2 linked regions of the Homo sapiens genome follow. The protein of the gene in region 1 purifies or fractionates together with the protein of each later gene. This does not show direct contact. Each region holds a gene or a part of one and is shown in the gene's direction. Other genes may lie near its edges.

Region 1 (3,696 bases):
GGAGGATCACTTCAGCCCAAGAGATCAAGGCTGCAGTGAGCCAGAATTGTATGTATCACTGCATGCCAAGCCTGGGTGACAGAGCAAGACCCTGTCTCTCAAAAATAAATAAATAAGCAAATGAAATGCCACTTGGCAAGAGCAGGTATCCCTGATTTTTGATCATTCATGTTTTTGGTCATGATTCTCAGATTTATCAGGTTCTCAGCAATGACCTGGGCTTTTGATGGAACTGGTCTATGGCAGTACTGCTTCATTTTGTTGCTTCACATCAATCACAAGGATTGGCATTCATACATTTTATTTGCTTTAGGTAATTATTCAGAGATTTTTAGATCACAATTCACAAAGTAATGTAAATGGACCCAAACATGTAAGGCACAACATAATTTAAATAACATTGCCCTGATTTATTAGGGAAAATCTGATAGAGTAATCTTTGGAGCTCTCCAATTAAGTACACTTTAGGATACATTTGTTAAAACTGCAAATTTTTACTTTAAACAATATGGAGTATCAATTTTAAGGCTCAGTTCTCAGCACATTTGGCCTTTCTACATGCACATAGAAAATAATCGGAATTTTTTCATGTTTAAAATGAATGAAAAACCACCAGATAATTAACCCTTTCATCTGAAAGAGTTGACAACTGACCTGCACTTAGGAGAAAACATGAAATCCATTTAAACAGATAAAACCAACTGCAAATTTGCCAGAACATATACATCCTAGCCCACACAATTTTTAAAAAAACTTTTTTTGGACATTTAAAGAGGTAATTTAAAGGCAAAGTAATAAGTGAAAATGAGTTAATTTTCATTTATTTTGGAGATGCTTTTAGATGTCTAAAAAGGCAAAGTTGCAGTACTAATTGACTTTTAAAGCAAACCTGGGCAGTTCTGTCAGTTTGTGCTTCTGTGAGCAATATTCATTTGATGTTGATGGTAGTGATTTAGAGTAGAGGGCGAAATTGGCAGACATGTTTAATTACTGGAAGAACTGTAACTCACAAACTTCTAGTACAAGTCAGAATTCTTTAGGAATTCTTTGGATATTTTGAGGGCTTTCGGCTCAGATTCATTAAAATAAACTATTGATCTATTCATAGAATGAATTAGCTTATCCAATTATTACTTTGGCTGATTCTCACCACTCCCTAACCTCTCTAAAAATAAAACTGTACAGTTGATAGAATTAGCTGGTGGTTTTCAATCTGGGATGATAGTCTTTAAATATCCTATGGAGAAAGAGGATTAAGCATGTAAAATCTAGCTGGTGTTTTAATTGGCTTTACAGCAATGAAACCAGCTGCATATTAGAATCGCCTGGGGTGCTTTTAAAAGACAGTAGTTCCAGGCCCCAACCCAAGCCCACTTAAGTCAGACTCTAGAGAATGAGGCCTGGGTGTCAGTATTAAGCATCCGAGGTGATTCTGATTATATAGTCAGGCTGAAGAACCACTGCCTCAAAATGCTAGTTCTATTAACATTTCAAAAGCTTTAAACTTCCTAACTGGAACAAGTTAGTTTTCCCAGACCTTTGTGATTTGACTGGGGGTTTTGGTTGCAGTCTGATATGTCCTGATTAGCTAGAGAAAGCCTAGTCTTTCTGAACCTTCCTTTGCCCAAGTTTGGCATCCAGCCTTGTCTAGGGAAAGAAGTATCACTTTTCAGAATACTGTGCTAAGGAGAGAATATGGTGTTTCATCAGTTTATGAATGAGATGGAGGTGCTGAGGGCCTTGGAAATCATATGGGGTTAAGATCAAAACTATTTGCTAGGTAGAATGTTAGGGTATAATATCCAGCTGTGGACAAAATTGCTATCAATGAGACCCTAAAATAGAGCACTAAGATCACTTAGCTATGTTTTGCCAAATACAGACGTTTTCTTTTGACTTTTAAAATCTACTTCTTAGATCACTTATCAAATAAAGAAACACATTAACAACTTCTTTAGGAGGAGTATTATATCTAGTGCCATCTTGGGAAAGGCCTTCAAACTCTTCTTGCTTCCTAATATTGGTTGTCCACAAAGGGAAACTATCCCATTCTTCATTTCTCCTATTGAGGTGGTAAACAACCATGTTATGTTTTGTCACATTGCTAGCGTAAATGCCCTTGACAGATTACCAGGGAGATGGAAATGCTGTCACCACTTTGCATGTCTCAGAGGACCTACTTGTGATTGAATAGGGAAGGTGTGATTGAGTGGGGAACATGTGCTGGATGTATGGTCTCTTCACCTTGCTATGACCTTGCTTTGTCTTTGTTTATTTACCCAAGGACCAGGAACTACCAAGACGACCAAGTCATCTGCTGTGCCCCCAGGCCTCCCTGTGTATTTGGACCTGTGCTACATTCCTAACCACAGCAATAGTAAGAATGTTGATGTGGAATTTTTCAAGAGAGTGCGGTCTTCCTACTACGTGGTGAGTGGGAATGACCCTGCTGCTGAGGAGCCCAGCCGGGCTGTCCTGGACGCTTTGTTGGAAGGAAAGGCTCAGTGGGGCAGCAACATGCAGGTGAGAACTCCTCGACAGTGTCTGCACTGCCGATTGAGCTGTGTCCAGAGGCAATGGGAAGGAACCATGTTTAAAGAGGCACCTCATGTGGCTGATCGTGGATCCACATGAGGTGCCTCCTGTGTCTGTCACACACGAAATATCCTGAGAACAAAGTCAGTTTAACACACAGTAGGTAGTCTGAAATAATATTCTTGGCACCACCACCAACCACGGCCTTGGAGGAAAGACACCTTAACTAAAGCAGAAACCATTTATCTGCAAAATGGGCCTAAGATTAATTGCCCTTCCTCCAGTATGCCAAGAGTCTTGTGTGTGTGAATCAAAGCGGTCATATTTCCATATGAGAGCTCCTGAGGAATTGCCTTTCTTCCTTTGTGTTTTATGAGTAGACTGCGGCTAGGAATATGGCCATTTAGAAAAACAGCTCTCCATGTGAAATTCCACAGCAGGAGCATTGCTGAATATAGTCCCTCACAGGACACTCCCAACTCCCAAACATCATGCCTGACCACAAACCATCCCTTATTTATTTAATGACAGGGTCTCCCTATGTTGCCCAGGCTGGTCTCGAACTCCTGGCCTTAAATGATTCTTAGAACCAGCTATTATTAATTCAGCTGTGATCTTTGCTTATCAAGTTTTATTTGTGGTTCTGTACAAAATTACCTAGTAAATTGTGCTTGTATCATATTATATAGAATTACTTGTTATTTAATCATATGAAATCTAATGAGAGGCACCCAGTGGCTCCCTACTGAATGCTAGATGGAATTTATACTATTCAGGACATTACTTACCCACCCCATACCTCCATCCCCAACCACACACATAAAGTAAAGGTGCAGATCTTTGTTCTCAGGACAAAATGTTAGTTACTCACAATGAGTGGGCTTTTGAGGGCTTTGAAGTGCGCGATAAAATCCTTGGATTAAATATGCAATATCTTTTATGCAAAACTTACCAGTTGTGTTAAAGGAAATACAAAAAATTGTACCCTAACGGAAGCACTTCTCTTAACAGTAAAGAACTGAGAAACTGATTAATTGCTTTTTGGTTCCAGCCTTCAGTTTCCCTTAGAAACAATAGCTTTTCTTTGCAGCTTTATTCTGGTTCCTGGAAAATATACATTGAAAAATCCTTTGCATTTCTTGAGGAAAATAGAAAAGTTTT
Region 2 (3,696 bases), on another chromosome or scaffold:
GGTGCGGGCGGCAGAGGGCAAGCAAGGCCCTTTTCCCTGCTGGAGTAGCCAGGATGCAGTAACTAACGCTCCCATGGGAAGGGATGGCCTCTCTAGAAAGACCTCGTCTCTGAGGTTGGGTGTGCCACATCCTGTATCCTCAGTTTATCTGTTTCGGTCTCAGGGTATCTGCTTCATCCGGACCAGCCGCCCAGAAAATGCCATCATCTATAACAACAATGAGGACTTCCAGGTCGGACAAGCCAAGGTCAGTGCCTCGCATGCCCCAGGAGCCCACAGAGCTGCCTGGACCCTCCCTGCTGTGACTCCCAGCAGTCAGGGCACACCCTGCCCCAGGGCCCTGAGCCTTACTCACCCTCTGTGTCACCCCCAGGTGGTCCTGAAGAGCAAGGATGACCAGGTGACCGTTATCGGGGCTGGGGTGACCCTGCACGAGGCCTTGGCCGCTGCCGAACTGCTGAAGAAAGGTGAGGAGAAGGGGCCTCCAAAGTCATCAACTGAGCGGCCACTGCATGCTAGGTCTTGGGGTTCTTTCTTTCGTTCTTTCTGTTCTTTCTTGAAGAGCTCACAGCTAGAGAGAAAGCATTTCATTTCATTAAATAATGATAGCAATTATAGCCATCCTTTGAGCACTTGTTCTGTCTGGCATGTTGCTAAGTCCTGGGGCTGCAGTGCCCACAGTCCCTACCCTATGACTCTAAAGTCGAGACCCCCCCAGCATGGTGGCCAGATCAGTGGCCTGGAGCCTGCCAGCTGGGCTGGAATCACTCAGCCAGGCACTAGTTAAGGAAGTAAGTTATTCACTGTCACCATGCCTGTTTTCCTATCTGTAAAATGGAGATACTAGCCCCTTGCCCTCAGAGCTCTCCTGAGGGTTACATGCATGTGACTTGGTATTCTATTATTATTACTGCGAGCTCACAGTGTTGGCTAGTGGTTTGTAGGGGAGACAGGCATTGGCCTCTCCTGCAATAGAATCACACAGCAGATGTCATGTTTTAGCACGAAAGAGGGGGCAGGTGTGGCATCTTCCAGAAAGTGGCTTCAGAGTGGGTAGGAATTGATTAGCAGAGAGGAGAGTGAAGGGAGGCCGGAGGAGGGTCAGGCAGGAGCAAGATGGGGCTGGAGGAGCCAGAGGAGTCCATCCCCAGGCAGGGGGAGACCCAGGGGGGTGAGCTTTAAGCAGGGCCTGGCAAGCGTGGGTTTGTCCTTCTGAGAAGGTGCCTCTGCTGCTGGGGCCGCACGTGGGCCTCTGATCACTCTGCGGGCTGCAGCTCCCCAACGTCACCACATCAAGCCTCACCTTCCATCAGGCCAGACACCTGGGGTGTTTTCTCTCGCATTCCCTTTGTCTTCAAGGTTGTGGGAGGATGAGGGAAGGCGCTCAGGGCCTGCACGCTCCGCTCTGGGTTCTTGGATACTGCGGGCAACACAGCTGGACCAGATGCCCCAGTGCAAGGGGTTGGCAAGCATGAGCTCAGCCATGGGAACGAGGTGGCAAGTGGTTCTCCCTGGGACAGGGACAGGCCCGCAGGCTGAGCTCTTAGCTACACGCAGCCCTCAGGATGTCCCACCAGGCCCCCACCAGGGCAGATAGTGGTGCCCAGCCCTCCCCTCAGCCACGCCGTGTGCTCTCCCTCACAGAAAAGATCAACATCCGCGTGCTGGACCCCTTCACCATCAAGCCCCTGGACAGAAAACTCATTCTCGACAGCGCTCGTGCCACCAAGGGCAGGATCCTCACCGTGGAGGACCATTATTATGAAGGTAAGGAGGCCTGGGGCAGGCAGGCTGGGCAAGGGACAGGGCCAGAGAGCCGAGCGTTGGACGTGCCTCTTCTATCTGAGCCCCAGGAGGGCAGCTGTGGCCCAGAACACCCAGAGCTGTCCCTCAGAGCAGCTGGGACGTGGTCTCTTAAAAGGCCTCAGGCTTGGCCTGGGGACCTAGCTAACTCACAGCTGCTGATGAGCTCTGTGGAGCTCCTGCTGCCCAGGAAGCTGGTGAGGATTCCAACCTCGCTGCTAAATGGTGGATGGTGGCGTCCCTGAGGTAGTGTAGGGTGGAAGCTATGGTGCAGCTTGGGAAGCAATGCAGAATTTCTGGTATTTGTGAGTCCTTCACACAGCAGGCTCCCTAAGTACACACCAGCCTCTCTAAGTAGGAGGCCCCAGTGGGAGAGATGGGCTTTGACTCTGGGGTCAAATGTAGATAATTGGACTATGGACAGTGGCTGGCTGGTCACCAACAATGGTGTTTGAAACAAACATTTAGAGGCCATATTTGGGCTTATAAAAATAGTTCTGGGCCGTGCATGGTGGCTCACACCTGCAATCCCAGCACTTTGGGAGGCTGAGGACAGCGGATTTCTTGAGCTCAGGAGTTGGGAGACCAGCCTGGGCAACATGGTGATACCTGTCTGTCTCTTTAAAATAAAAAAAATCAATGAGTTATGTGATGGGCTCATGGCTACAGGTGGAGAAAGGCAGTGCATATGCAGCCTCCTCCATCCTTGACTAAGGCTGACAGAGGGCTGGGCCCACCACTGCTCACCCTGAGGCCTCGTCTTCTGACTCCCCTCCTTTCATTTCTAGGTGGCATTGGTGAGGCTGTGTCCAGTGCAGTAGTGGGCGAGCCTGGCATCACTGTCACCCACCTGGCAGTTAACCGGGTACCAAGAAGTGGGAAGCCGGCTGAGCTGCTGAAGATGTTTGGTATCGACAGGGATGCCATTGCACAAGCTGTGAGGGGCCTCATCACCAAGGCCTAGGGCGGGTATGAAGTGTGGGGCGGGGGTCTATACATTCCTGAGATTCTGGGAAAGGTGCTCAAAGATGTACTGAGAGGAGGGGTAAATATATGTTTTGAGAAAAATGAATTGGCCCTGAAATGTTTTCTTTTTTGATGTGTTTGCAGCCAGTGCAGGTTCTGGGGAAGAAGCGTGGAGGGTGCGCTAGGGAGGCTGGTGTCCTTGGTCCTGGGCCAGGACCTGGGTGTCCCAAGTCCCCTTGGAATCACCTGCAACTGCCCTCAACCTCCAGAACTATCGCTGCCTCCCATTCATCACCAGGTGACATTTGACTGCAACCTGCCTTCTAGCTGAGAGGCTGAGACCTACATCCCTCATTGTGACCTCAGTCCACCTGGCCCTGAGCGGGCTGGGGAACTGCCTCAGTCTGGAAGCTGACCAGGCACTCTCAGGGCCGCCCCACCTCCCCCAAGTCCCCACAGCCTTGCAGTCAGGTCTCCTGGGATAGGGAGGTTCACTTGCTTGTTGTCCCTCGTCCTTGTCATATCCTTTTAACTAGGCATCTCAGAGAAGCAGAGACAGGGCAGCCTTCGTCCTGGGGGAAAAGGGACCCTCAGGATGGCATGAGAGGTCCTCAATCCCAAGTGTGGAACTGTCCCCCTCAACTTGTTAAAATGCAGATTTCTGGGTCTTGCCAATGGGGCCTGGGACTCCATGTGACAACTGGCCCAGGAGCTTCTGATGTCACACAGAATTCTGCAGTCCCAAGCTCCAGCCCCGACCTGCTCTGCTGTTCCTAGGTGACTGCCCTCACACTGCTGACCACAGTGGATTTCTCCCCCTGCTGCTCGGGCTCAGCTGGGGTCAGCCCTGCTTATAAGGTCAACTGTGCAAAACCTTATACTGGCCAAGAACAAACTAGTGCTGGGGGAGGAGGGCTGGGTGCCCCG

The links.
Region 2: the proteins of MAP1B (region 1) and TKT purify together in Homo sapiens (affinity purification with mass spectrometry, with the first as the bait; one study listed by BioGRID). This does not show direct contact.

What each region holds. Positions count from the first base shown.
Region 1 is NC_000005.10:72,201,279-72,204,974, forward strand, and holds part of MAP1B (microtubule-associated protein 1B), read left to right. Parts: intron 1-2,284; coding exon 2,285-2,523; intron 2,524-3,696. UniProt on the Homo sapiens protein: Facilitates tyrosination of alpha-tubulin in neuronal microtubules. Phosphorylated MAP1B is required for proper microtubule dynamics and plays a role in the cytoskeletal changes that accompany neuronal differentiation and neurite extension.
Region 2 is NC_000003.12:53,224,827-53,228,522, reverse strand, and holds part of TKT (transketolase), read left to right. Parts: intron 1-163; coding exon 164-247; intron 248-373; coding exon 374-467; intron 468-1,644; coding exon 1,645-1,767; intron 1,768-2,591; coding exon 2,592-2,767; 3' UTR 2,768-3,696. UniProt on the Homo sapiens protein: Catalyzes the transfer of a two-carbon ketol group from a ketose donor to an aldose acceptor, via a covalent intermediate with the cofactor thiamine pyrophosphate.